4 linked regions of the Homo sapiens genome follow. The protein of the gene in region 3 interacts with the protein of the main gene of each other region in a biochemical or structural test. Each region holds a gene or a part of one and is shown on either strand. Other genes may lie near its edges. The genes, in order: PEX6, PEX5, PEX26 and PEX1.

Region 1 (5,848 bases), on a different chromosome or scaffold from region 3:
GTCACAACATCAGTGCTGATAGTGAACAACAAGGCCCACATGGTGACCCTGGACTATACGGTGCAGGTGCCGGGGGCTGGCCAGGATGGCTCTCCTGGCTTGAGGTACCACTTGGCTTAGTGGGGGTGAGGCGGTAGTTGGGGGAGCTGAGGTCACCAGTCCTCATGGTTGCTGGGGCCTCTGTTACAGTAAGTTCCGGCTCTCCTACTACCCACACTGTCTGGCATCCTTCACGGAGCTGCTCCAAGCAGCCTTCGGAGGTAAGTGCCAGCACAGCGTCCTGGGCGACTTCAAGCCTTACAAGCCAGGCCAAACCTACATTCCCTGCTACTTCATCCACGTGCTCAAGAGGACAGACTGAGTGTGGCCTCAGCTCCCACAAGCCTCTGCCCAGGCACTGCTAGGCTCTGTCTGGAAGATGGGGACCAGCAGCCCCACACCAGGGCCAGCCTCTAGAGCAGACTACAGCTGGGGTGCAGGGATGTGGGTTCCACAGACGGAAGGGTAAACAATATAGTCTTTTTCAGTTCCTGCATGCATTGTGTTTATTTATGTCAGAAGGATCAGGCTCCCATGCTGCCCACCCCCCCACCCTCTCCCAGGGCTTACTCCTCCCACAACCCTGCTCTTTCTCACTCCAACCTTTCATGCCACAACACCAGTAGGGGGCGGGACATGCTTTATTTTCAGCCACAGAACTAGCCCTCTCAGGGCCCAATCCCCAGAACCCAAGGCCCTGGCCCTCTTCCTGAGTAGATGGGCCTTTCTCTTAGAGCCGGCCTGGAAGGAGGGGCAAGTAGGCAGGAGATATCTCTTGAGCTGTTGCTGCTGTCTCAATGCCACTTTGCACCCTGGGATCTCCTGGAGGGAGGTGGCCTCCAGGTGGGTTGGCAGCAGCCTGAGGAGGAGCCCTTCCTTCCCAGATCTCTCTGTGGGCTATCAAGGTACCTGCAGCCATGCTGAGCGGGGTCCCAGACCCTGGGGGGCTCCTAGCAGGCAGCAAACTTGCGCTGGATGCGCTTGTACCGGAGCAGCTCCTGCTCACTGACTGAGGGTTGCAGCCGGGCGGCAGCCTGCAGCAAGTCCTCCATGGTGAGCATCAGTGCTGAGCTACCTGGCTCCAGCCCTGGAGATGACAAGGTGGGGAGGCTGTGGTCTATGCCCAGGCAGGGGAGAGCCCTGCGAAGGTGGCTTCCTGCTCAGGGTCTCCTAGATGTCAATGATCTTCCCTCTGGAATCCAGGACTAGGTTTGTCTCCCACTAGTTTTTTTTTTCCCTTAAACATTTTTTTTAGAGTTGGGGTCTCTCTGTGTTGCCCAGGCTGGCCTCAAACTCCTGGGCTCAAGCGATCCTCCCACCTCAGCCTCTCAAGTAGCTGGGACTCAGGTGCACCCAGCTCCCCACTAGCTTTTTGGTTGACCTCTCAGACCGGCAAGTGGCTCACCTTCCTCCAGGTCATGAACCCTGCGTTTGAGGGCAGCTGTCATAGCATCAGAGCAGAGAGAGTAGAGGTCCGCGCCCGTCAGCTGGGGAGGGCAGCAATCTAGCACGTTTACCAGGCTCACAGATGGCTCTAGCTTGAATCTGTTGTGGGATACAGGAAGAAACAGAGTTGGCATCACCTCCTCCCTCGAAAGCCAGTGCTGACCAGCTCATCCTGCATGTTGCATGCATCCCCTAAGCATCCCAAGGCCCAAGCCCTTCGCAGTCTTCCTCTAACAGAGCATACTTGCGTGTGATGGCACTTAGAACGCGTAGCTGGGAGGCCCGGTCCTCATTTGCCCCCACAAACACCAGCTTGTCAAATCTTTAGGGAGATAGGCAGGTATAAGTTTCAGGGAGCCCAGCCATGAGGGGTGAAGGAGGCACAAAATGAGGGTGGAGATGAGCAGTACAAGGGGCCCACCTGCCAGGCCGCAGAAGGGCAGGGTCCAGGAGATCTGGTCTGTTGGTGGCTCCAATCACAAACACATCCTGAGTGCTGTGCAGCCCATCTAGCTCGGCAAGGAGCTGAGACACCACCCTGGAGAGAAGGGAGCAAGGGCAAGAGTCCTTGGTGTCCCCCTTAGACTCTGCCCCTGCCTGTGGTACCTCTCTTTACAGGCAGTCTCAACAGGGCCCTCCACTCAGCTGTGCCCAATGTGCCCCACCAGGTAGGCCCCCATTCTCCTCAGTGGACCCTGCCCAATTTCATGGCCCCTTTCAGCTTCCATTATATTATCTCAGAACTGAAACAGCAGGAACTTCTATCTCTGGACTCTGAAGACTGCTGTGAGCTTTCTCATATCCTTCCCACCCTGGACCCCTCAGCTTTCATTCCCACTCAGACCCCTACCTGTCCATCACTCCTCCAGAATCTCCACTTCGCCCCCGGCTTGGGGCCAAAGAGTCCAGTTCATCAAAGAAGATAATGCATGGAGCTGCAGCCCTGGCCCTGGCAAACACTGAAGAGAGAGAGGGGCCCACAGGAGGGCAAAGCTCGGCTTGTGGGGGGTTGAAGTTAGGTGAGAGCAGGGAGGGAAACTGGGGCCTGACAATACAGCACTGGCATCCCAGGTACTAGACCCAGCTGGGCAGGAACCTGACTTGTAGAAAGGAGGATTAGGAATGATCATGAGTAGCCTGGGAGTAGGGGGTGGCTTGGGGGCCATCGGGGTTTGGGAAGCATGGGACGCCCTGCCCCTCCCTGCTCACTCACCTTCCCGCACATTCTCCTCACTTTGGCCCACATACATGTTAATGAGCTCTGGCCCCTTCACGCTGAGTGAGAGGATGTGAGAAGGTGAGAGCCGTCAGATGCACATACACACAATTGACCTCTTGGGCAGCCCCTCCTGCTCCCCAGCCTGCTGCAGCCCCTGATCCACCCACCATCCCTTCCAGGCCCCCTGGCCACCTGAGGAAGGTAAGGCTGCACTCAGTGGCTACTGCCTTGGCCAGAAGGGTCTTGCCGGTGCCAGGGGGCCCATGGAGCAGAAGGCCTGAGCGTCTCAGGCCCAGGCTCAGTAGCTCAGGGTGCTCCAGGGGGAGCTGAATGGTCTCCAGGATCTCCTTCTTCACCTCCTGCAGCCCACCCACATCATGCCAGGACACTGAGGGGATCTAGGAGATGGAAAGTGCGTGGTTGGGATATGCTCTTGGAGGGGCTCCTGTCCCACCTCCAAGGACTTGGTCTCCACCTTGGGGGCTCCAACGGCCTGGGAGTGAGCTGTCTGCAGTTGCTCCAGTGCCTGCCCAAAGTCCTCAGCCAGGAGAGGAAAGCCGGCAGCACACAGCTCCCCCTCATCCTCCTCAGTCAAGCCACCTGCCAAACTGCAAAGAGGAACACAGGGAAGCCTCCTCACCATCAGCGTCCCATTCCCTTCTCCCTTCCTCACCACCCACCCATCTACATCCATTTCCTCTTTCCGCCTTTCCGGTGCCCACGTCCTCTTACCCTGAGTTCTTGATCCTGGTGCAGGCTGCCCGGCTGCTGTGGGTCAGAAGGGCATAGAGATCCCCTACCACAAAGCCCTAGGGAACCACAGGAAAGGACACATGAGCAGGGCACAGTAGGCAGGAACCTTCAGGGACCGTCCCCCAGCTAGAGCAGAGGCCCTCTGTTGATGCCTTAGGTTTGTTGTTTTTTTTTTTTTTTTTTTTTTGAGACGGAGTTTTGCTCTTGTTGCTCAGGCTGGAGTGCAATGGCGCGATCTCGGCTCACCGCAACTTCCACCCGGGTTCAAGCGATTATCTCACCTCAGCCTCCCAAGTAGCTGGGATTACAGGCATGTGCCACCACACCTGGCTAACTTTGTATTTTTAGTAGAGACGGGGTTTCTCCATGTTGGCCAGGCTGGTCTCAAACTCCCAACCTCAGGTGATCCGCCCACCTCGGCCTCCCAAAGTGCTAGGATTACAGGCGTGAGCCACGGCGCCCGCGCTGGGTTTTCTACTCTCACTCACAAGGCAACAGGACTGAGTTCTTGTAACAAAAGCCAGGGACCTCCTAGGGAGGGCCAGTACTCTCCCTTGATACTCACTGCACACCGCCGTGCTAGCTGTGCCAAGTTCACCTCCTGGCCCAGGGGAAGGTGGGCAGTGAGGGCCCGCAGGATGCTGAGCCGCTGCCCCTCTGACAGAGCAGGCACCTCGAGCTCATGAGGAAATGCTGTCTGCACATCAGCAGGCAGGTCCTGGGCCCGGCTTGTGGTGGCCACAACCATGAGGGGAGGGCAGCTGCAGACAGAGGAGTGGGCACTGAGGGTGAGAACATGGCTGGCAGCTCCTGTGGACTGCCTTGTCCCAAAGTCGGCACAGAAGGGCAGGGAAGTGAGGTGGGTGCTAGGATGGGGTAGGGAGATGAGCATCTACCCCAGTTCCTAGATGGGGGAACTGTGTTTCCCCCATCACATTGAGGGCAGAGGCTTTTTCTTTAACCGAGTGTTCCCCAAGAAATGCTAGACCACAGACTCCTCCCTCTGGATCCCTCTAAAGACACGGAGCTCAGGGCTGTCTAGAGGGCAGCCAAATGGATGGGAGATGACTGAGAAGCCACTGAGGGGTGAGAGAAGGGAGGACTGAAAGGCTGAAAAGTAGGAGGGCTGGCCCCCCCGCTCCCCCTTTTTTTTTTTTTTTTAAGACTGAGTCTTGCTCTTGTCGCCCAGGCTGGAGTGCAATGGTATGATTTTGGCTCACTGCAACCTCCGCCTCCTGGGCTCAAGTGATTCTCCTGCCTCAGCCTCCCAAGTAGCCTGGATTACAGGCACCCGCCACCACACCCAGCTAATTTTTGTATTTTTAGTAGAGACAGGGTTTCACCATGTTGGCCAGGCTGGTCTTGAACTCCTGATCAAGGCAGGTGATCCACCTGCCTCGGCCTCCCAATGTGCTGGGATTATAAGTGTGAGCCACCGCGCCCAGCCGGCCCCCCCAGCTTTGAGAGGCCCAGCTCTGTATAAGTACCTGTTGAGGGGGTCCTCATTGAGGAGGAGGTGACGCAGCACAGCCATCACACGGGCATCCTCACCCAGCCCATCACGGTCCCGGCCCAGAAGGTCCACAGCTGTGAGCAACAGGACTGCAGGCCGGCAACGGCGGGCCCGGGAGAAGATGGCCTGCAGTTTTGTCTCCACAGCCCCACTACTTTCTGCACAGAGGCTGGAGCAGGGCACCTGGGGAGGGGATCCCAATGGGTCTGTGAGCAAGGGGAAAGCATGACAAGGGCAGGAGAATCAGGGGAGGAGGAGGTGGAAGATGTGGGCCATCTTTTTCTCTGGAGGGCAGGGACAGGGAAGGTACCCTGGCCAAGTCCTACCTCTTTTTTACCCTATCCCATTCCCTGGACTGTCCACCAATATCTTGCAACTCCCTCCTCCTTGAAAGTACCTCTCCATAGCTCAGCATCATGGGAATATGCCTGACCCACTGGGCTGAAGTGCTAGGGCCTGTGAGTAGACAGAGGAGGGAGGGGAGAGGAAGCAGCAGAGAGGGAGAACATGAGCTGGGGAGGGGAAGTAGCTGGGGTTCTACTCTCCAGAGACCCTCACCTTCAGTAAGTGGAGCCCAAGGTGACTACAGGCAGCAGCAACTACTGTGGTCTTCCCACAGCCTGGGGGGCCCCGTAGAAGGACACTGCTAGTTCCTGTCAGCAGGGCACCCCTGCAACCAGAGAACAGACATTCGTCTCCTTCATTTTGCCCAAACATTAGAGTCCCCAGTAACACAAGATCCCTTAGATCTAGAAAGCAGATACCCTGTTTTTCTCTCCTTGAGCCTCCCTGACCCCAGGACAGGGCTGTCCCCATGTAGTGAGGCTGTGTCTCCCACACCACCTGCGGTGCTCTGGCCGGGGCATCCAGCATATCCA
Region 2 (5,305 bases), on a different chromosome or scaffold from region 3:
ACAAAAAAAAAAAAATTTTTTTTCCAAGTCTAATGTGCCCACAAACATCTATCTCCAAGTATAAATATTTGTGTATATTTTTAAATTTTTCCTCAGGATAAATACCCATCTTGATATGGCACTTGATACAGTTCCCGATAAAGGCAGGCAGAGCCAGATGAAAAGCTTTAGAAACCCTAAGCACTGAAAAACTATCAAAATCCTTCCATGTAATTCATAATACAAAACAACCTAACAATTATATGGCACTGCACACTTTCCTTTGTAGTAGTAACAGGAGTAAAAATTCATGATTATCGACATCTCTTTCTCCTGCTAGCCCAGAGGCCCAGAGAACAGGGACCCTGTCTCCTGTGCTCTATCATTTTTAGAGGGATGAGCAGGTAACCAATATACCAGTGAGAATTTGAAAGGCAGAAACTGTTGAATCCCAGTCCTCCAAACGCCAACTCACCTTCTGCCATCCCAGCTTCATGACCAGCAGAACTCATACCCACATCAGTTCCATTTATTCTTCGTACAAATATTTTACAGTTTTATTTTTAAATCATTTACACATATTCATACAAAGAAAAATAAATTTCAGGATGGAATCCTGGGACCATGGTAGTTTAAAAAAAAAATCTCTCTGATCATTAGCTACTAAAGACAAGGCAAGAGGCTTAGCAGTCATTTCTGGGGGTTAGTGTATCTCCCCATGCAGGGGACAACTGAGAAGAATCCAAGCTGCTCCCTCATCTTCCTTCGATCTAGATGGGGGAAGGGGATTTTCCAATGCTCTCCCCTAGAAACATTTCAAGAAGTACAGCAAAGGCTTATGGTAACACTGAACCTATTTGCTAGAAATCTGGCAAGATTGCACTTTCTGAACCAATTTTCTATAACAGTTGGCTCAATTCCCATTCACAGGTGCTTCTAAGAGGATGAGGGATTGCCGCACTCACCATACCCCCTTCCCACTTGCTCTGTCCTCCCACCAACGTTCCTGAATAGAGCCCTTGATCTCTTCTGATCTAGTCCCTCCCCGCTCCCACCCAGCCTCATTTCACAAGCAAACCTTCCTCCTATGCCACACACCCAGACACTCTGTAGCAATTGGCCCTGGCAGCTCCTGAGGACCGCTGCAGTGATGACACAGGACTATTGCATCAGCATCGTGCTCACAGGGAATCAGAGCTCAGCCAGGAGAGGTCCAAGAATGACAGAACCATGAGCACTCCTACCAAAACTCAGCTCTGCTCAGCCAAATCAACAATTCAACCCAACAGGCCAACTCCTAACACATCCCATCCAGACAGACATTAGAGGCGCACAGCAGATGAACCTCCTACTTACACTGCCCAAGGAAGCTGGACTATCAATTCCCAGTAAAAGTGGGGGAAAGGACAGACATTACAGATGTGGTAGACCCTATCAGAAATGGCAGCTGATGATAACAGTTACCCTAAATCGTGGGGTCCTACCCAAAAAGCAGCACCAAGAAAGGGCATGATGAGCAGAGAGATCTGTAGCTGGATGTACAGCCCTTGAATTACCAAGGGACTCAGAGATGACACAGCTCATTTTCCTACAATTATGTAGGAACTAGAACACAGACTACCCACCCCTACGTTGAGGCAGCTCCTGAAAGGCCGTACCGCTTATGGTCATCAGCCCGCCCCCTTGGTAGGCCCATTTGGGGAGAGGGAATCACATCCAAAGCGGGGATCCCTCCAGGTGGACACTCACAGGGCAGCCCGTCCCACTGTCACTGGGGCAGGCCAAACATAGTTAGGAGGGTGGACAGATCCCGCGCGTCGGCTGCCCCATAGGCATCGCTCTGGCCTAACATAGACAATGCCAAACGCAGGGTGCTCCAGATGTTCTCCGACATGGCACCTCCTTCACCCCGGGGGCCCCGGCTTTTCCTCTGCATGTTCAGGGCCTCCAGAAAGTGCTCCACAGCCTCCCTGTAAGGAAGAAGAGGAATGAGAGCTGTTAAGCTGAACAACAATGGAAGGAAGCAGGTCAGCTAGCAGTGGGAGGGAGAAAGCTAGGGCTGGTTAGTCAAACAGGATCTAAGAATAAGGAGCTAGGGCCAAAGGCAGGGAGAAAAAGCTCATTCATTCATTTCTCAATAGATACTCTCACCGGTGAGCCCCGAGGTTGATGCAGCTGATGCCCAGGTTATAGCGGGACCGGATATAGCCAGGCTGGAGCTCGAGGGCCCGGCGGTACGCAGCTACTGCTTCTTCACTCTGGTTTCCATTGGCCAGGGTGGCGCCTAGCTTATTCCACAGCAAATAGTCCTGGGATAGGGATGCAGAACGGATGGGAACAGCTTGACTCAGCTCAAACTCTGCACATTACTCCACCGACTCAGCTCAAACTCTGCACATTACTCCAGCTGTTTCACTACTCTGTTAGCTAACATGTTTCGTCCCATTCCATTCTCAACAGTTCGGTGTGTGGCTACAATGTAGCCCCTCTCACCCTATGCAGACTCTCTTATGTCCAGATGACCCTACACTCCCAGCCTTCTTTTCCCAGTCCTCCCAAGGCAGTCAGTACATGGAACACTGGAATGAAATACCCCAAGACTCCAAAAGTCTGAACAAATTATTCTTTTTTGTGGGGGTGGGCAGGGTCTTGCTATGTTGCCCAGGCTGGATTTGAACTCCCAGGCTCAAGTGATCCTCCCACTTCAGCCTCCCAAGTAGCTGGGACTACAGGCATGCACCATCAAACCCAGCTTCCCAACAAATGGCTCTTCAATAAGGTACACAGTCATGTCCCATTTCCATTCCTCCCCTGGGCTCACATTGGGACGAACGCTGAGGGCAGCTGTGAAGCAGTCCACGGCCTTGTCATACTCCCCACTCAGGTTGAAAAGGACTCCCAAGCCACACTGCACATCAGGGTCAATGGAGGTAGGGTCCAGCCGCACAGCTGCCAGGAAGAGCTCTTTCACTTCAAGAAACAGGGAGCTGGATGAAAAGGAAAAAAACACAAAGTAGGTAGATGAATGTCTCTATTCCCATCCCCCCAAATTAATTTCTTCATTGATCAACCATATCCCCAACATTCATCAATCTATCAGTCATCTCTTCTACTCTCAAAGTCCAATATAGAAGCCTGTTTTTCTATTTCATCCTAGCACTGAACTGTAGAATGCAGACCTCCTTCAACTTGATCCTAGGTTTCCCATCCCATTCTCAGGACCCTTCAGTCTCAATCCATCCAAACTTCCAAAACCAAGGTCACCCTCCTACTGGGACTTAGGTTACTGTAATTCCTCATCCTAGGAACCCCTCATACTCACTCAGACAAGAGAGATCCCAGGATACGCTTGCTGGGGCCCAGTCCTGCCCCACCAGCCCCTTCTTCAGCAGGTGTCACCAGATGGGCATAGGCTGGTGTGTACCGCAGCCAGTCTCGTAGGGTTTCACAGGCCTGTCGCTGCAGGGACTCGTTGGTGAAGCTCACAGCCAGCGCCATCAGTGCTGTCTGGTTATCTGGCTTTAGCTCCAGACACCTGTTTGATCAGGGATGGGCAGACTTGATATCTGCAATGACTGACACTGGCACATGTGAGCACCCTGGGATCCAAGCCAAGCTTTGAAATGCAGAGTCACAATGGCCTCACCTGTGACTCCTCTGACATGAGTTAATAATAAAGTTACAGATCTAAGGGGAAGGTTTTAGCAGGCAAGGAGCCAACCAAAGCCGCAAATAAAATCAAAAGCCGATGAAGGAATGGAATTCACTCCAACCCTCAGAGTTTCAGCATGAGAAAACACTCTTGATAGCACTCAGAAAGAAGACAAGGATCCAGGTCTGGGCTTCTGTCATTCAAAAGGTTATATGCAGAGCCTTGGAAGCACCTCACCCACACCTTTCAGTGTACTCACCTCCGCAATGCACTGATGGCTAATAGTTCTTGTTCATTCTCTGCCTGGGTGGTACCCAGATACTGCCAAGCCTAGAGGGAAGTTGACAGATTCCATCACCCCATATTCACCTCTCCATTCGCCCTTCCCCCTGGCTTCTCCCACTCACCATCTCGCTCTCAAGCCCCTATCCTAGGCCATCACCCAGGCCCTAACCCATCTGCACTACTCTCCTTGGGGCCTTTCTCAAGATGGAGGAAGCAGTCTCTAGCCAGAAATGAGACTATGGAGTCACTCACTTCCATGTGCTTAGGATCCTGCTGCACAGCTGCCTCAAAAAGCAGCACAGCATTTGGCAGGTCCCCCTCCTGAAGGCGCCGCAGCCCTTCTTCAAAAGGCTGAGGGTGATCACGCAAGGGGTTCTCCTCCTCAAACTGGTACCCCTACAAGAAAAGCACGTGAGAGATGGACTGAGAGGTGGCACCGTCAGAACAGCAGGGATGTGAGGATGACAACCAGCAGGCAGAGAAGCTGAGGGCCTCCAAACAGGTTCCGGAATTAATTGCTGGCAAATTCTCCATATTATAAAGATCATGTATGACACAAGTAAAATCATTTGGTATCAGGTTTGTGCTCCCATCTCCTGTTCATGATACCTGGGAAGCTAGGAAAGTCTACAAATTCATCTGCGCTGGAAATAAGCTTATTTTAGGAAGTCATCACAGGCTTGTATTCCCACACCTTGACTTCTCACCACGGGGCAGAATGTCTCAACAGGATCTGCTTATAGTAATGAGACAAAGTGTCCCTAGCTATGCAAAGTGCATTTCTTGTTATCCTTCAATAATGTGATGATGTATAAAGGAAATGTTGTTTGGAGTCCTGCTATTCAAATATAACTCTTACTTAGCTCAGAGTCATTCCACATGTCAACTAGATAAAACATTTTCAAGCATTTTGAAAATGTTAATTTATTCCCCGATTTCATTCTTAATAATCATGAATATTAATCTGTATCTGACAGTAAGCAAAAGCTGGATCCCAAAATCCAGATGGCAGAGAATACTTCAGAAAGACACCATTCTCTTCCAGCTGAGGATTTCTCACTTTAGAGAAGAGTTACGATACTATCTGCAAAGCTTTGTCAACTGGCATTTTACACTAGGCAGAGAAGAAATGAGGTAAAGGGGAAGTCACTAGTAAGCTGCAAAATCTGGGACATGCAAATAAAAAGTCCGTTTTTGGAGAGTAGTTACCATCATAAAATAATACACCAGAACGAAAACAAGATGCAAAACAACAGGTGGAGGTCTTTCTAAATGCAGTTAAGAATAAATTCAGATAAAACTGTACAAAATAAAGACATGAGGCCCTTTTTCATTATTATTGTGAAAATGATAAAGAATCAAAAACACTTAAATCTTACCAGCAAAATT
Region 3 (7,677 bases):
TTGATATCATAGAAGCAGACGGTAGAACGGTGGTTACCAGAGACTGGGAAAGGAAGGAAGAAAAGGAAGACGGGAAGAGGTTCGTCAATGGGTACAAAGTTACGGTGGGATAGGAGGAATAAGTTGTGGTGTTCTATTGCACGGTAGGGTGGTTATGGTTAACAGTAAGGTATTGTATATATAAAATAGCCGGAAGAGAGGCTTTTGAATGTTCCTGTCACAAACAAATGATAAATGCATGAGGTGATGGATATGCTAACTACCCTGATTTGATCATTATACAACATATACACAGCATATATTGAAATGTCTAATTTACCCCATAAATATGTACAAGTGTCAATTTTAAAAACTTTGTTATTTTTTGGCCAGGGGCGATGGCTCACATCTGTAATCCCAGCACTTTGGGATGCCGAGGCAGGTGGATCACGAGGTCAGGAGATTGAGACCATCCTGGCTAACACGGTAAAACCCTGTCTCTACTTAAAACACAAAAAAATTAGCCGGGCGTGGTGGCAGGCGCCTGTAGTCCCAGCTACTCGGGAGGCTGAGGCAGGAGAATGGTGTGAACCCGGGAGGTGGAGCTTGCAGTGAGCAGAGACTGTGCCACTGCACTCCAACCTGGGCGACAGGGCGAGACTCCGTCTCAAAAAACAAAACAAAACAAAACAAAACAAAATTTTTTTTTAAGAATTAGGAATTCCTAGGACGTAGCAAGCTGCTCTTTCAGCTCTGTCCACTCTGTCATCCCACGTCGCTCCTATTCCCTGTTTCCTCCCTTCTTTATATCTATTCTACTCCTAAATTCCTCCCCCTTATTCTTTATTGCTATGTATGGAAGTCTGGGGAAAAAAAAGTGAAGGGAAAGAATCCGATCTGGAGGGCAATAGTAGGGAAGGGGAAAAGAGTAGGTATTTAGGAGAGGAGATGAAAATCCTCTCGTTTCTGAACCGATCTGATGAGTCAGCAAAGAAGACTTACCACAGCTCCAGGACTTTGGGGGGTAGCTTTTCAGGGACCTGGTAATACTGAAGGACCCAGGAGAGGACTTCTTGCCACCGATCCATTTCTGCCAGGGCCTGGATCCCCACAACACACAGGGAGCACTTCACCTCCAATGAGCTGTCAGCAGAAAAACCAATTTCAGTTAGAAGTGGTTCCCCTCCATTTCCATTCCCACCTCCACCTTGGGACTGTTCCTCTCCAGCTCCCAACTCAGCAGCCATCATCTCTCTCATCCCTGTTAGTATTTAGATGGGCTTCACAATTGGTCTCATGGGCTGCCCTTTCCCCCAGGAACTAAAAGTTCCTGTAACCCTCTTTCAAGAGGCAAGTCAGCTGTTGCTCAACGTTCATCTTTGTATCCAGGTGAAATCAGATTTAAATGAAGAGGAAGGGTAATCCTGAGGGGGAAATAACACACAGCACCGGTGTGTGGCTGAAAAGAGAGCTGGAACTAAGAGTTTGCTCTGTGAACAAATGGGCTTGGAGCAAGGTTTCTGGCTGAGTGGAGGTATAGACTCCATAGCTGGCTAAAAGGCACCACCTAGTAAGGTTCCTCCAGACACCCAGAAGCAAAGCCTTCTGCATTCACTGAAATGAGCTCCCACCCAGTCCCCTAAAACACAGCCAGGGCTCTCCAGATCATCCTTCTTTGTGGTCAACTTTAGCTATTCTACCTACCACCTCCCTAGCGTGGCCTAACCCAAGTTTACAATGCAAAGAAATGACTCCCTCACCTGCCAGACGAGGCTGGTGGCATTAGAAAGAGCAATGCAAGCCCAAGGTTTTTTTCTCCGGATTCTTTTCTTTTTCTTCTTTTTGGTAGAGAAGAGGGCTCATTATGTTACCCAGGCTGGTCTCGAACTCCTGGGCTCAAGCAATCCTCCTGCCTCGGCCTCCCAAAGTGCTGGGATTACAGGCGTAAGCCCCAGCTCCCGGCCCTGAATTAATTCTTTAATCCAGTCCTCTAATTGGACCAGAACGCTGCTCCTGCCATGACCCCCATTCCCCATCATCAGCCAAGGTCAGGAATAAACAACCTTGGGCGGGGCGGGGAGGGCGGAGGTACCTGGGAGAGGACTTTTACCACCTGCTTACTGACAGAACTTAGCACTTAATACACATTCAGCCTTCCCATCATGTCATTGTACCTTGGAACAAGGAGCAAATAATTGGCTGTGGGATCCCCACTAAGTTTTTGTTACACGACTTCCCTTCTCTGTAGAATGGGCACACGATGAGCGACCACCCTCTCGGAGACAAACCACTGATGAAAGCGAGGTGTAAAGCTCCTTGTGGGCAATCTGGGAAGGACAGAACTCCTGAGACCTTGAGCCCCACCACAAGAGCGCCCGGAAATCGGTTCATTTCCGAGCCCAGCACGTACGTGCCCGCGGGTTCCTCTGCCACGGCGTGGTTGGCCAGACTCTGCCAGGCCCGCTCGCAGGTCTCCAGCGCCGCCCGGAAGTCCAGGTGCACCACCAGGAGGTCGGCCGCCTCCTCCAGAAGGTCCACGGCCGGCGCCCGGGCCGGGACCGCGCGCACCGGCTCGCTGCTGCGCAGGGGTCCCCCGAGCCCCCTGAGGGGGGCTGCAGAGGTCGAAGAATCGCTCTTCATAACGAGTCCGGGTCCAAGGCCCAGGTCCTCAGACGTCGGAGTGACCGCCTCCCCAGAGGCTCCGGGATATCCCGAGTTGGCCTGGGCGAAGAGGGAGAGTCCTCATCTCTTTGCCCACACCCCTTCCCGAGGTCGATTCCCCGAGAAGGAAAAGGAAGGGGCCTATCTGAGGCAAAAGCTGGGCTCGCCTGGAGGCTGGGGAAGCAGTTTACACGTCAGATTTGCAGGATTCTTGCATCCCTGGAATACCTGGCCCTAGCTTCTCCGGCCCCGCGACACGTGCAGGAACTGCCTCAGCTCCGGGCTCCTGGTTACGATCAAAGACTCACCTCGCCTCCCGGCAGCGGGCGCGGACATCTTTGCGCTCGCCCAGCCCCGCAGCCGCGCGGCGTCCCGGCGGCGCGGAGTACTCTAGGAGTTGTAGTTCCTCAGCTCTCGGCCCATCGCCTTCTGTAATGGAAGTAGGAGGCAGAGCGCGGACTACAACCCCCAGCACGCCGCGCCCCGGAAGCCGCCCCTGTGCCGTGAGAAAACAAACTGGTGCTACAGCTTCGGGGTGCGGAAGTCAAAACGAAGCAAAACCGAAGCTGTCTTGTGAAATGGAGGGGTCCTCACTAACCAGTTCCAGCGGAGGCTAACGGAAGAAGTGCCAGCAATGGATGTGCAGCTACATGCACGCTTTTAATTCAGAGCTTCTGCGACGGTGGCGATCAGGGGATCTGTAATGTAATGTAATGTCAAGGCTGACGCAGAGCTGATCAAACATTTTGGCAACCTTAGTCTTGAATTGATTCACACTTTCTCCGCGTTGCCTCCGGAGTTTGCTGTAGGGTAATGAATATTGCCTGGTGAGGATGAGGGACTTAGGGTGGAAACCTTCACAAGGACCACTGAGAATATGTTGGTCCCAAGGGCAATGTTCCAAAATGAATAGTGACCCCACCGAGGCGGGGTTGGGGGCGCTGAGCATAAGGGCCTCATTTTTCTCACTGCTCTCTGCCCCATCCTGAATTTGCTGTTAAAAAACAACGTTAAATGCAGATACCAATTCCACTTCCCCACTGTTGTCACTTCCGATCTGTCTTTATATTTCTCCTTATCATTTATCACCATCTACATACCAATGTCTATATTTTACTTATTTTTATTGTCTATTTCCTTCCACTATGATATAAACTCACAAAGGCAGACGTTTTTGTCTCTTTTGTTCACTGTGGGAACCTCAATGCCTTGAACAGTGCCTGTCATCTATAGGTAGTCAAAAAGTATTTGTGGAATAAATGAAGTCCTGGTTTCACTTTTATCTGGTTACAGGGTCCAGACTTCTCTTTCCTCGGAGTCTGGTGGACTTGGTTCTGCCTCAGCTTCCCATGCAGACTTTTCTGCAAGAGAACGGAAATCCCAGAAGATGGATGTGTGCATGTCTGGTGACAAGGGCAGGGGATGTATGATGTGAGCAGGTGCCTGTTTAATCTAATTTCTAGGAGAGCAAAGATTCTAGGGAAGCTTTGGAGTGAATTCAAAGGGTAGAGAACTGGGGAGAAACTAAAGCCAAGAGGATCTAGTACAAATGTGGGAAGCTTGGCAAAGCCCGGGTGAAACAGAATATAATAATAAGTGTGATTTGTGGATCTGTTTAAAATTATTATTATAGTTACAATTTACCAAATACTCTGTTCCCAGTACTTTACTATAAAGTGCATTATGTACGGTATGGTTTTGTTTTTCACAATGTCCTTATTTTACATTGTGTAACTTGCTCATGGAATGACTGTGTATCCCCTGAATAGCAAACATACTTAGTTCTGTCCCTGCAGAGCAGAGTAGAGCTCAATACACATCTTTGAACCAAAAGAGCCTCGGTTTGACTGAGATTTTGTCGCTTACTAGTTGTGTGACCTCGGCAATTTATTTAAATAAGCTCTGATTTCCTCACCTGTAAAATTGGGATAACAGTTTGTCCTTAGCTCCCAATGGCTGAGGGAAGAATTAAGTAATATTGCGCATAAAGCGCCATGCGCATTAAGCACTGAAAATGTGAGCCAGGCCTGGGAAGACGAACATGCTCAGAAGCGGCCAGCTCTAAGCGGCTGCTGCCTGGAAAAGTCCCTTTCCTAACAAATTTCTTGCTATTCCAAATTTGTCCAGGAGATGGAGGCACAGTCTTAACAGAAGCAGCCTTGCTAAAAGTAAATTTGCCTATTTAGTAGTGAGACAGCCAGAATGAGGTCAAGATATTTAAGGCAGGAGAGAGGAGAGCTAGAAACCATATAAAAATATGATTGTATTCCATTTCTGATTCACCCAATTTTCAACTATTCCCGGGCTTCATATCAGTCCGTATGTAACCACTGTTTAGCACTATTATGCCCACAAATGGATTCCTCAACACACATCCAGTGGGACACATCATCTCCTCTATGTCTACAAGTACTTAGACTTTCTCAAGCGAAGACACAGAAATCCTAAACAGAAGCGAATTCATTCCCTCTGGGGGAACATAAATGCGTATTGTCTTTACTTAGCCAAACTTCTGTCTCTAAGTTGGAGCTCATGGGACAGCCTTTGAAATCATCTCTTCTGTCATTTCCTCATCTTTGAGACAAAAAACACAGTGGAAATAAGGACAGTCCTTTCAGATGTATAAGGCCAGGCCCATATTAATATTTGTATTGTTTGAATAGTTTTATTTTGGGAAAACTGGCAGAGCACCTGAGATGCCAGTATCCTCGTTACAACCCCTTCCCTAGCCCTACCTAGGCTCTGGAACTTGGGGTTGTTCCTTCCATTTGGCAGAGGGCTCAGTGTGGCTCCTTGCCTGAGGAGGCAGATTTGCTCAGCCTGCTGTAGCAGGGGATGAGTTGTTGTTTTTGTAGCAGAAAGCACACTGGACTGGAGATGAGAGGCATGGCTAGAATCCTGGTTCCTTCAGGTGGGGCACAGTGGTTCATGCCTGTAATCCCAGCACTTTGGGAGGCCAAGGCAGGAGGATTGCTTGAGCTCAGGCATTCAAGACCAGCCTGGGCAACATGGTGAAACCCTGTCTCTACAAAAATTAGCCAGGCGTGGTGGAGCACGCCTATAGTCTCAGCTGCGCAGAAGGCTGAGGTGAGAGGATGGGTTGAGCCCAGGAGGTCGAGGCTGCAGTAAGCTGAGATACACCACTACACTCCAGCCTGGGCGACAGAGTGAGACCTTGCCTCAAATAAAATAAATAAAAATTTTTAAAAAATAAAAAAGAATCCTGGTTCCTTCAGTGACAAAGCCAGGTGACCTCTAGAAAGTCACCATACTTCTTTGTGCCTCAGTTGTCTCATCTGAGGACACTAATACTAACACCTGCTGCATAGGGTGGCTGTGAAGAGCAGAAGAAACCATGTGACAGCCCATTGAACACTTGTCAATCACTGGACTCGTTCAGGCTGATGTAAGGCAAGAAAGAAGAAAGAATCTCAGCCCAGCGCGGTGGCTCATGCCTGTAATTCCAGCACTTTAGGGGGCCGAGGTGGGCAGATCACTTGAGGCCAGGAGTTCAAGACTAGCTTGGCCAACATGGTGAAAAACCATCTATACTAAAAGTACAAAAGTTAGGCAGGCATGGTGGTGTCCACCTGTAGTCCCAGCTGTTCAGGAGGCTGAGGCATGAGAATGTCTTGAATCTGGGAGGCCTCCGCAGTTGCAGTGAGCCAAGATTGGGCCACTGCACTCCACCCTGGGCAACAGACCAAGACTCTGCCTCAATTTAAAAAAAAGAAGAAGAAAGAATCTCATAGCACTCCGAAGTTCTGTAATATTACTTTCTGACCTAGAATCCAATTCTTTTTTTTTTTTTTTTTTTGAGACAGGGTCTCGCTTTGTCGCCTAGGCTGGAGTGCAGTGGTGCGATCTCGGCTCACTCACAGCCTCTGCCTCCCGGGCTCAAGTGATTCTCCTGCCTCAGCCACCCGAGTAGCTGGGATTACAGTTGCATGCCACCATGCCCAGCTCATTTTTGTATTCTTAGTAGAGACAGGATTTCTCCATGTTCTCCAGGCTGGTCTCAAACTCCTGACCTCAAGCCATCCACCTGCCTCAGCCTCCCAAAGTGCTGGGACTACAGGTGTGAGCCACCGTGCCCAGCCCTGGAATCCAATTATTGACTCTTCCATGCAAAAATCAAAAATGCCCACATCTGGCTGGGCACAGTGACTCATGCCTGTAATCCTAGCACTTTGGGAGGCCAAGGCAGGAGGATCACTTGAGCCTAGGACTTTGAGACCAGCCTGGGCAGCATAGCAAGACCCCATCTCTATTGAAAAATGTTTTCTAATTAGCTGGTCATGGTGGCACGTGCCTATAGTCCCAGCTACTTGAGAGGCTAAGGCAGGAGGATCGCTTGAGCCCAGGAGTTCAAGGCTGCAGTAAACTATGATGCGCCACTGCACTCAATCCTTCAAGCCTGGGTGACAGAGCAAGACCCTTTCTCAAAAAATAAAAATGAAAAGCCTACATCTGACGTCAACCTAGCCTGTCTTGCCTTCTCCACACTGGTTCCACATTTCAGGCCAATAAACAGCATCCACAGCTGTCCCTTCGAACATCCCAACCAGCCAGAGCCCCTCAGTACAGGGACATCTGTGGCAAAGCTCTGCATGCAATAGGTTCAGACCAAGTGTGGACCTTTGGCCAGAAGCGAGCCAAGGAGATAAGTATAGGTAGGGTGGAGATGATGTTTTTCCAGGATGGTCAAGGCACACCTCCCTTGCTCCAGAGGCTCATCAGTGGGATGGCATTTTTATGGCTCTTTTTTAAAGCCTGGACTAGGAGTTCAGGGCAGAACTCAATGCTTCCTATAGTGTTCCTCTCCTTGTAGACACAGCAGAACTCTGCTTCTGTATCTAAGAAGTGACCATCATAATCATCCTGTATAGTACTTTACAACAATAATAGTGATGGCTCAATTTATATGGTATGATATTAACTATGCACTAGGTGCTTTTCTGAGTGCTTTATTTATTTGTTTATTTATTTATTTATTTATTTAAGACAGGGTCTCTCTGTGTTGCTCAGGCTGGAGTG
Region 4 (7,031 bases), on a different chromosome or scaffold from region 3:
AACTATAGGTAATAAAATTGTATTGGGGATTCATGTTAAATGAGTAGATTTTAACTACTCTTACCACAAAAACACAAAAGTGGGTAACTGTGAGATGATGTATATGTTAATTTACTTCACTATAGTAACCATTATACTATCTATATGTAGCTCATAACACCATGTCGTGTATATTAAATATGCACATTAAAATTTGTTTTTTAAAAAAAGAATTGAGATTTTTTTTAACTAGATATGGAGTGGACAAAATGTAAAGTGAATTGATCTTTTCGTCTGTTGGTTCTAGGAGCTGCATGCTGTTTCCCTTGAACAACATCTTCTAGATCAAATTCGAATAGTTTTTCCAAAAGCCATTTTTCCTGTTTGGGTTGATCAACAAACGTACATATTTATCCAAATTGGTAGGTGCTATTGTAATATTTGCTGTCATATTCTACACTATAGCATTGAGTCCAAAGTAGAAATGAATGTGCACTAATGAGCTTTATTTTCTACACAGTTGCACTAATACCAGCTGCCTCTTATGGAAGGCTGGAAACTGACACCAAACTCCTTATTCAGCCAAAGACACGCCGAGCCAAAGAGAATACATTTTCAAAAGCTGATGCTGAATATAAAAAACTTCATAGTTATGGAAGAGACCAGAAAGGAATGATGAAAGAACTTCAAACCAAGCAACTTCAGTCAAATACTGTGGGAATCACTGAATCTAATGAAAACGAGTCAGAGATTCCAGTTGACTCATCATCAGTAGCAAGTTTATGGACTATGATAGGAAGCATTTTTTCCTTTCAATCTGAGAAGAAACAAGAGACATCTTGGGGTTTAACTGAAATCAATGCATTCAAAAATATGCAGTCAAAGGTTGTTCCTCTAGACAATATTTTCAGAGTATGCAAATCTCAACCTCCTAGTATATATAACGCGTCAGCAACCTCTGTTTTTCATAAACACTGTGCCATTCATGTATTTCCATGGGACCAGGAATATTTTGATGTAGAGCCCAGCTTTACTGTGACATATGGAAAGCTAGTTAAGCTACTTTCTCCAAAGCAACAGCAAAGTAAAACAAAACAAAATGTGTTATCACCTGAAAAAGAGAAGCAGATGTCAGAGCCACTAGATCAAAAAAAAATTAGGTCAGATCATAATGAAGAAGATGAGAAGGCCTGTGTGCTACAAGTAGTCTGGAATGGACTTGAAGAATTGAACAATGCCATCAAATATACCAAAAATGTAGAAGTTCTCCATCTTGGGAAAGTCTGGGTTAGTATAAATTTTATAACTTGGGAGAAATTTTATGTGGCTTAAACATCCCCAAATTATGAATTAGAATAGTATTTCATATATAAATTGAAAATCAATTAAAAAGAAACACAGTGCCTAAAGGCACTTGGGGGACACATTTACGCTTTGCAGTAAAGTCCTTGTTTGGATAAAGATTGTATGTTTTCTGGCCAAGTAAGCTTGAATAGGTACAAGCTTAGATAGGTTCAGGCCAGAGAGGTCAAAATTACTTGCCTGAGATTGCATAGCTAGTGTTACAACTAGGATTCAAACCCAGGCAGATTGACTTGGGGGTTCATCAGGATGGAGTGCCCTACAAAGCCTCCCATCTTTAATGCTTGCAGATTTGTTCCCCAGTTACCGAAAGCAACTTGTTAATATTAGGGAAAAGGGCCAGTGTAGGGAGAGATCCATGGCATGAGGTAACCTTCCTGCTGCATGTGGTGGCACCTGGATTGGAATGCATCCAGGAGCTGCTTACCCTGCCGGTGTCTGCTCTTTAATTTGTGTATAACGGAGAGGAAGTAGACAGGGCAACTAGTGCTCCAGCCCCTCATCCTGGCCACAAATATTAATGCTACCTTTATATGACATAAGTCACTAGTCCATTTATTGGAACCTAAATTTGAACCACTGTAAAGTAAGACTTCATAGTGATAAAGAGAGGAACTTGTTAGGAAAGAGAATAAAATAGAAAGAGAAGGTTGTCTCCTTTTGTAGATTTTTTTTTTTTCTCCAACAGTTTTACCTGTGACCTTTATACAAATAACTGACAAAGCATTAATCTCTTTGGCCTACATCATTTTCTTTTCTATTTTTTTTTTCCACAAGATGGAGTTTCACTCTTCTTGCCCAAGCTGGAGTGCAGTGGCATGATCTGGCTCACTGCAACCTCCGCCTCCCACGTTCAAGTGGTTCTCCTGCCTCAGCCTCCTGAGTAGCTGGGACTACAGGCATGCACCACCACGCCTGGCTAATTTTTTGTATTTTTAGTAGAAACTGGGTTTCACCATGTTAGCCAGCCTGGTCTGGAACTCCTGACCTCAGGTGATCTGCCTGCCTCGGCCTCCCAAAGTGCTGGGATTACAGGCATGAGCCACTGCTCCTGGCCGGCCTACATCATTTTCTAAAGCTCCAGACCATTCTTTTCTTTTCTTTTCTTTTCTTTTCTTTTCTTTTCTTTTCTTTTCTTTTCTTTTTTCTCTTCTCTTCTCTTCTCTTCTCTTCTCTTCTCTTCTCTTCTCTTTTCTTTTCTTTTTTTGAGTTAGAAGCTTGCTTTGTTGCCCAGGCTGGAGTGCAGTGGCACCACCTCCACTCACTACAACCTCCACCTCCCAGGTTCAAATGATTCTCCTGCCTCAGCCTTCAGAGTAGCTGGGACTACAAGTGTGCGCCACCACTCCTGGCTAATTTTTGTATTTTTAGTAGGGACGAGGTTTCACCATGTTGGCCAGGCTAGTCTTGAACTCCTGGTCTCAAGTGATCCGCCTGCCTCAGTCTCCCAAGGTGCTGGGATTACAGGCGTGAGCCACTGTGCCTGGCCTCAGATCATTATTTTCTGTTAGCTTTAAACTGTCCGTTCAGGAGATCCCACTGCATCCTCAAATTCAAAATATCTAACACTGAGCTTATGATTTAGCTGGTTCTGTCATTAGATGGGAATATCCTTTTATTTCCTTGAAATTATATGGTGAGAACAGGGAGAAGTGCTGATGGTAAAGTCCTGTGATTAAGATAGCAATAAGGACTCCGCCCTTCCCACTCCACTGAAGGTTGAAGAGCCATGGACAATGAGAAGTCACAGTAGGTGAAATCAGGTACTAAAATGGACTTGGCTTGAGAGATCAAAATTGATCACTTGGTGATACAACTAACAAATTCATGTTAACTTGAACCTTTATTACCCTGTGAAGCATGGTGATTAAAAAAAAACAACAAACAAACAGGAAACTTGATTGTTAAATTCTCTTTAAGTCAGAATATGTACCTTAGAGTTTTTATTTATGCTTTTGTCTACCATTAATATGTCTGCACCTGCTCTTTAGAAGTTAATAGAGAGTAAAGTCGTCTTTATGTCTTTCAGTGCTTACTTATATTTGGGAAGTTGAGAAAAATTTTTAACATCATTATTGATATATATATATATATATATATATATATATATATATATATATATATATATATATAGATAATTTTTTTTTTTTTCTTGAGACGGAGTCTCACTCTGTCGCCCAGGCCGGAGTGTGGTGGCGATCTCCACTCAATGCAAGCTCTGCCTCCCAGGTTCAAGCGATTCTCTTGCCTCAGCCTCCCGAGTAGCTAGGATACAGGCTCCCACCACCACGCCTGGCTAATTTTTGTAGTTTTAGTAGAGACGAGGTTTCACCATATTGGCCACGCTGGTCTCAAACTCCTGACCTTGTGATCCGCCCACCTCGGCCTCCCAAAGTGCTGGGATTACAGGCGTGAGCCACTGCGCCCGGCTGAGGTAAAATTTAAAGTGTACAATTCAGTCATTTTTAGTATATTTATACTAGTTGTACAGCCATCACCACAATCTAAGTTTAGAACATTTTCATTAGGGGGTGGGAGAAATTTTACTCTGCTTTTTAGATTAAGTTTCTGTCTGGATCTAATCATTTAATCAGACAATCAGGCAGATTGTCTGTGATTAGTTTTGGCCATTCCAGCTTCTTCATTGGTTGTTAACTTTCACAAATAAAGGCTGCTCAAAGATTAGAAATAACATTTAATTTGAATGTAAATGTGCCATAGTTTAAAAGATGGGTTTGGTGAATACAGTCAAATACATACATTTAAAGCTCTAATTCTGAAGATTATGTAAAGAAAAGGAAAGAAATGTAGGGAGAGGATTGAAATGTTCATGGTATAACAATATCTGAACATCCATCTGGTCACACCGTTGGTATTTGAATGTTTTGTCCTCCTCAAATTCATATGTCGAAATCCCAACTCCCAAGGTGATCGTATTAGGAGGTGTGGTCTTTGGGAAGTGATTAGGTCATGAAGGTGAAGCCTTCATGAATGGGATTCGTGCTCTTATAAAAGAGAACTGTGAGAAATAAGTTTCTGTCGTTTGTTAGCCACCCAGTTTAGGATATTTTGATATAGCAGCCTGCATGGACTGAGACAACTATGAGTTATTATGATAGCTTCTGTTATTTCACCTAAATTCATAGAAGCTAATATATCAATATTTATGCTATGAAATATTTCTTAACCAAGCTTTGAATATATTTATATTTTTGTTTATTTTTAAATTTCAGATTCCAGATGACCTGAGGAAGAGACTAAATATAGAAATGCATGCCGTAGTCAGGATAACTCCAGTGGAAGTTACCCCTAAAATTCCAAGATCTCTAAAGTTACAACCTAGAGAGAATTTAGTGAGTTCAAATATATATGTTACATCAAAATTCTTTTACACGTTTTGTAAGATTTCTAGTTGCTTTAGCTAAGTAATAAGAATGTTGTATTCCTTTTTGATACAAATCTTTTTTTATTGTGTTAAACTATATATAACATAAAATATGCCATGTTCGCCATTTTTAAGTGTATAATTCAAAGGCATTAATTACATTCATAATATTGTACAACCATCACCACTATCTATATCCAGAACTTTTCCATCACCCCAAAGAGAAACTTGGTACCCATTAAACAATAATTCCCCGTCCACTCCTTTCCCCAGTCCCTGGTAATCTCTAATGTATATTGTGTCTCTATGAATTTACTTATTCTAGATATTTCATATATAAGTAGAAGTATGCATTTGTCTTATGTATCTGACTTATTTCATTTAACATAATGTTTTCAAGGCTCATCTGTGTTGTATGTATCAGAATGTTATTCCTTTTCATGGCTGAATACTATTCCATTGACTGCATATACCACATTTGTTTATCCATTCATCTGTTGATGGACACTTGGGTTGTTTCCACATTTTTGGCTGCTGTGAATAATGCTACAGTGAACATTGGTGTACAAGTATCTGTTTGAGTTCCTCTTTTCAGCTCCTTTGGGATATACCTAGGAATTATGTTTAACTTTTTGAGAAGCTGAGAAATCTTTAATAAATGATAACACAAATACTTATATTTGCCAATGCAAATATGAATATTTTTGGCTTTTAAGAGATTGATCATTTTGCCACGTGGTTGTAATTAAAAAAAATTGTCCCATGTTGTTTCAGTATTAATATTGTAGCCTAAAAGAGTGCTAGACTGTTTTACTTTTTACTCAGTTAATTCTTTGGATACTGGTAGAGTCAGGAAATGAGATATTGAACTTAAAGATCTTTGCAGGTGGGGTCCAGTGGCTCACACCTGTAATCCTAGCACTTTGGGAAGCTGAGGTGGGAGGATTGCTTGAGGCCAAGAGTTTGAGAATAGCCTGGGCAACATAGCAAGACCCCATCTCTACAAAAAAATTAAAAAAAAAATTAAGCCAGGCGTGGTAGCTCACGCCTGTTATCCCAACACTTCGGGAGGCTGAGATGGGTGGATCACTTGAGGTCAGGAGTTGGAGACCAGCCTGGCCAACATGGTGAAACCCCATCTCTACTAAAAATACCAAAATTATCGGGGCGTGGTGCTAATCCTGTAATCTCAGCTACTCAGGAGGCTGAGGCAGGAGAACCACTTGAACTGAGGAGGTGGAAGTTGCAGTGAGCCTAGATCTCACCACTGCACTCCAGCCTGGGTAACAGAGCGAGACTCTATTTCAAAAAAAGTAAAAATAAAAATTAGACACATGTGGTGGCACATGCCTGTAGTCCTAGCTACTCAGGAGGCTGACTGAAGTGGGAGGATCTCTTGAGCCCAGGAGTTCCACACTGCAGTGAGCTATGATTGTGCCACTGCACTCCAGCCTAGGCAATATCTCAAAAAAAATTTTTTTAAATAGATTATTAGGCCAGACGTGGTGGCTCATGCCAGTAATCCCAGCACTTTGGAAGGCCAAGGCAGGCGGATCACCTGAGGCCAGGAGTTTGAGACCAGCCTGGCCAACATGGTGAAACCCCATGTCTACCAAAAATACAAAAATTAGCTGCAATGTCTATAATCCCAGCTACTTGGGAGCCTGAGGCAAGCGAATCGCTTGAACCCGGGAGGCAGAGGTTGCAGTGAGTGGAGACTGCGCCACTGCACTCCAGCCTGGGCGATACAGCGAGATTCTGTCTCAAAGAAAAAGGAATTTGTTTTCCTGTCTTTATCGTAGAGGGAGGAAAGGGAGAATGGGGTTGGAATGGTTATTGAGTGAGCCACATTATGGTAGATGTATCACTGGGCATAGAGAAAAGGAGCATTTAAAACTTTTCCGCCTAACAGATGTTTCTTCAGGCTACACTGCACTCATTGTGCTAACTGTAATGTCAAATCCCAGACCTGTGCCTATAGAACATGAACATCCTTCATTGGATTTGTTTGGTCAGGCTTACACTTTATTAGGAAGATCAGATGTTAAAATAAGGGTGTTAAAGTTAAGTTCAGATATGAGGATAATTCATTACTATTCCTTTTTCTGGCAGCCTAAAGACATAAGTGAAGAAGACATAAAAACTGTATTTTATTCATGGCTACAGCAGTCTACTACCACCATGCTTCCTTTGGTAATATCAGAGGAAGAATTTATTAAGCTGGAAACTAAAGATGGTGAGTACATTTGTTATTTTGACTTTTTTTTCTATTTAAATAGTTGTACATTTTTAATTGTTCTTGCAA

What was found.
Region 1: the proteins of PEX26 (region 3) and PEX6 form a complex in vitro, tested with the Homo sapiens proteins (one study listed by BioGRID).
Region 2: the proteins of PEX26 (region 3) and PEX5 form a complex in vitro, tested with the Homo sapiens proteins (one study listed by BioGRID).
Region 4: the proteins of PEX26 (region 3) and PEX1 form a complex in vitro, tested with the Homo sapiens proteins (one study listed by BioGRID).

Annotation. Positions count from the first base shown.
Region 1 is NC_000006.12:42,963,346-42,969,193, forward strand, and holds the end of PEX6 (peroxisome biogenesis factor 6), read right to left. Parts: intron 5,641-5,848; coding exon 5,529-5,640; intron 5,154-5,528; coding exon 4,945-5,153; intron 4,219-4,944; coding exon 4,023-4,218; intron 3,514-4,022; coding exon 3,437-3,513; intron 3,313-3,436; coding exon 3,180-3,312; exon of another isoform or gene 3,159-3,179; intron 3,103-3,158; coding exon 2,897-3,102; intron 2,761-2,896; coding exon 2,699-2,760; intron 2,445-2,698; coding exon 2,336-2,444; intron 2,024-2,335; coding exon 1,907-2,023; intron 1,808-1,906; coding exon 1,730-1,807; intron 1,585-1,729; coding exon 1,445-1,584; intron 1,127-1,444; coding exon 990-1,126; 3' UTR 520-989; downstream 1-519. Other genes in the region: CNPY3-GNMT (Glycine N-methyltransferase-like isoform 1 precursor), read left to right, coding at 1-104, 190-361; GNMT (glycine N-methyltransferase), read left to right, coding at 1-104, 190-361. UniProt on the Homo sapiens protein: Component of the PEX1-PEX6 AAA ATPase complex, a protein dislocase complex that mediates the ATP-dependent extraction of the PEX5 receptor from peroxisomal membranes, an essential step for PEX5 recycling.
Region 2 is NC_000012.12:7,206,666-7,211,970, reverse strand, and holds the end of PEX5 (peroxisomal biogenesis factor 5), read right to left. Parts: intron 4,313-5,305; coding exon 4,169-4,312; intron 3,962-4,168; coding exon 3,891-3,961; intron 3,515-3,890; coding exon 3,302-3,514; intron 2,967-3,301; coding exon 2,801-2,966; intron 2,289-2,800; coding exon 2,131-2,288; intron 1,950-2,130; coding exon 1,748-1,949; 3' UTR 512-1,747; downstream 1-511.
Region 3 is NC_000022.11:18,073,319-18,080,995, reverse strand, and holds the start of PEX26 (peroxisome assembly protein 26), read right to left. Parts: upstream 3,007-7,677; 5' UTR 2,620-3,006; coding exon 2,390-2,619; intron 1,123-2,389; coding exon 982-1,122; intron 1-981. UniProt on the Homo sapiens protein: Peroxisomal docking factor that anchors PEX1 and PEX6 to peroxisome membranes. PEX26 is therefore required for the formation of the PEX1-PEX6 AAA ATPase complex, a complex that mediates the extraction of the PEX5 receptor from peroxisomal membrane.
Region 4 is NC_000007.14:92,511,511-92,518,541, reverse strand, and holds part of PEX1 (peroxisomal ATPase PEX1), read left to right. Parts: intron 1-286; coding exon 287-401; intron 402-499; coding exon 500-1,266; intron 1,267-4,574; coding exon 4,575-4,694; intron 4,695-6,838; coding exon 6,839-6,962; intron 6,963-7,031. UniProt on the Homo sapiens protein: Component of the PEX1-PEX6 AAA ATPase complex, a protein dislocase complex that mediates the ATP-dependent extraction of the PEX5 receptor from peroxisomal membranes, an essential step for PEX5 recycling.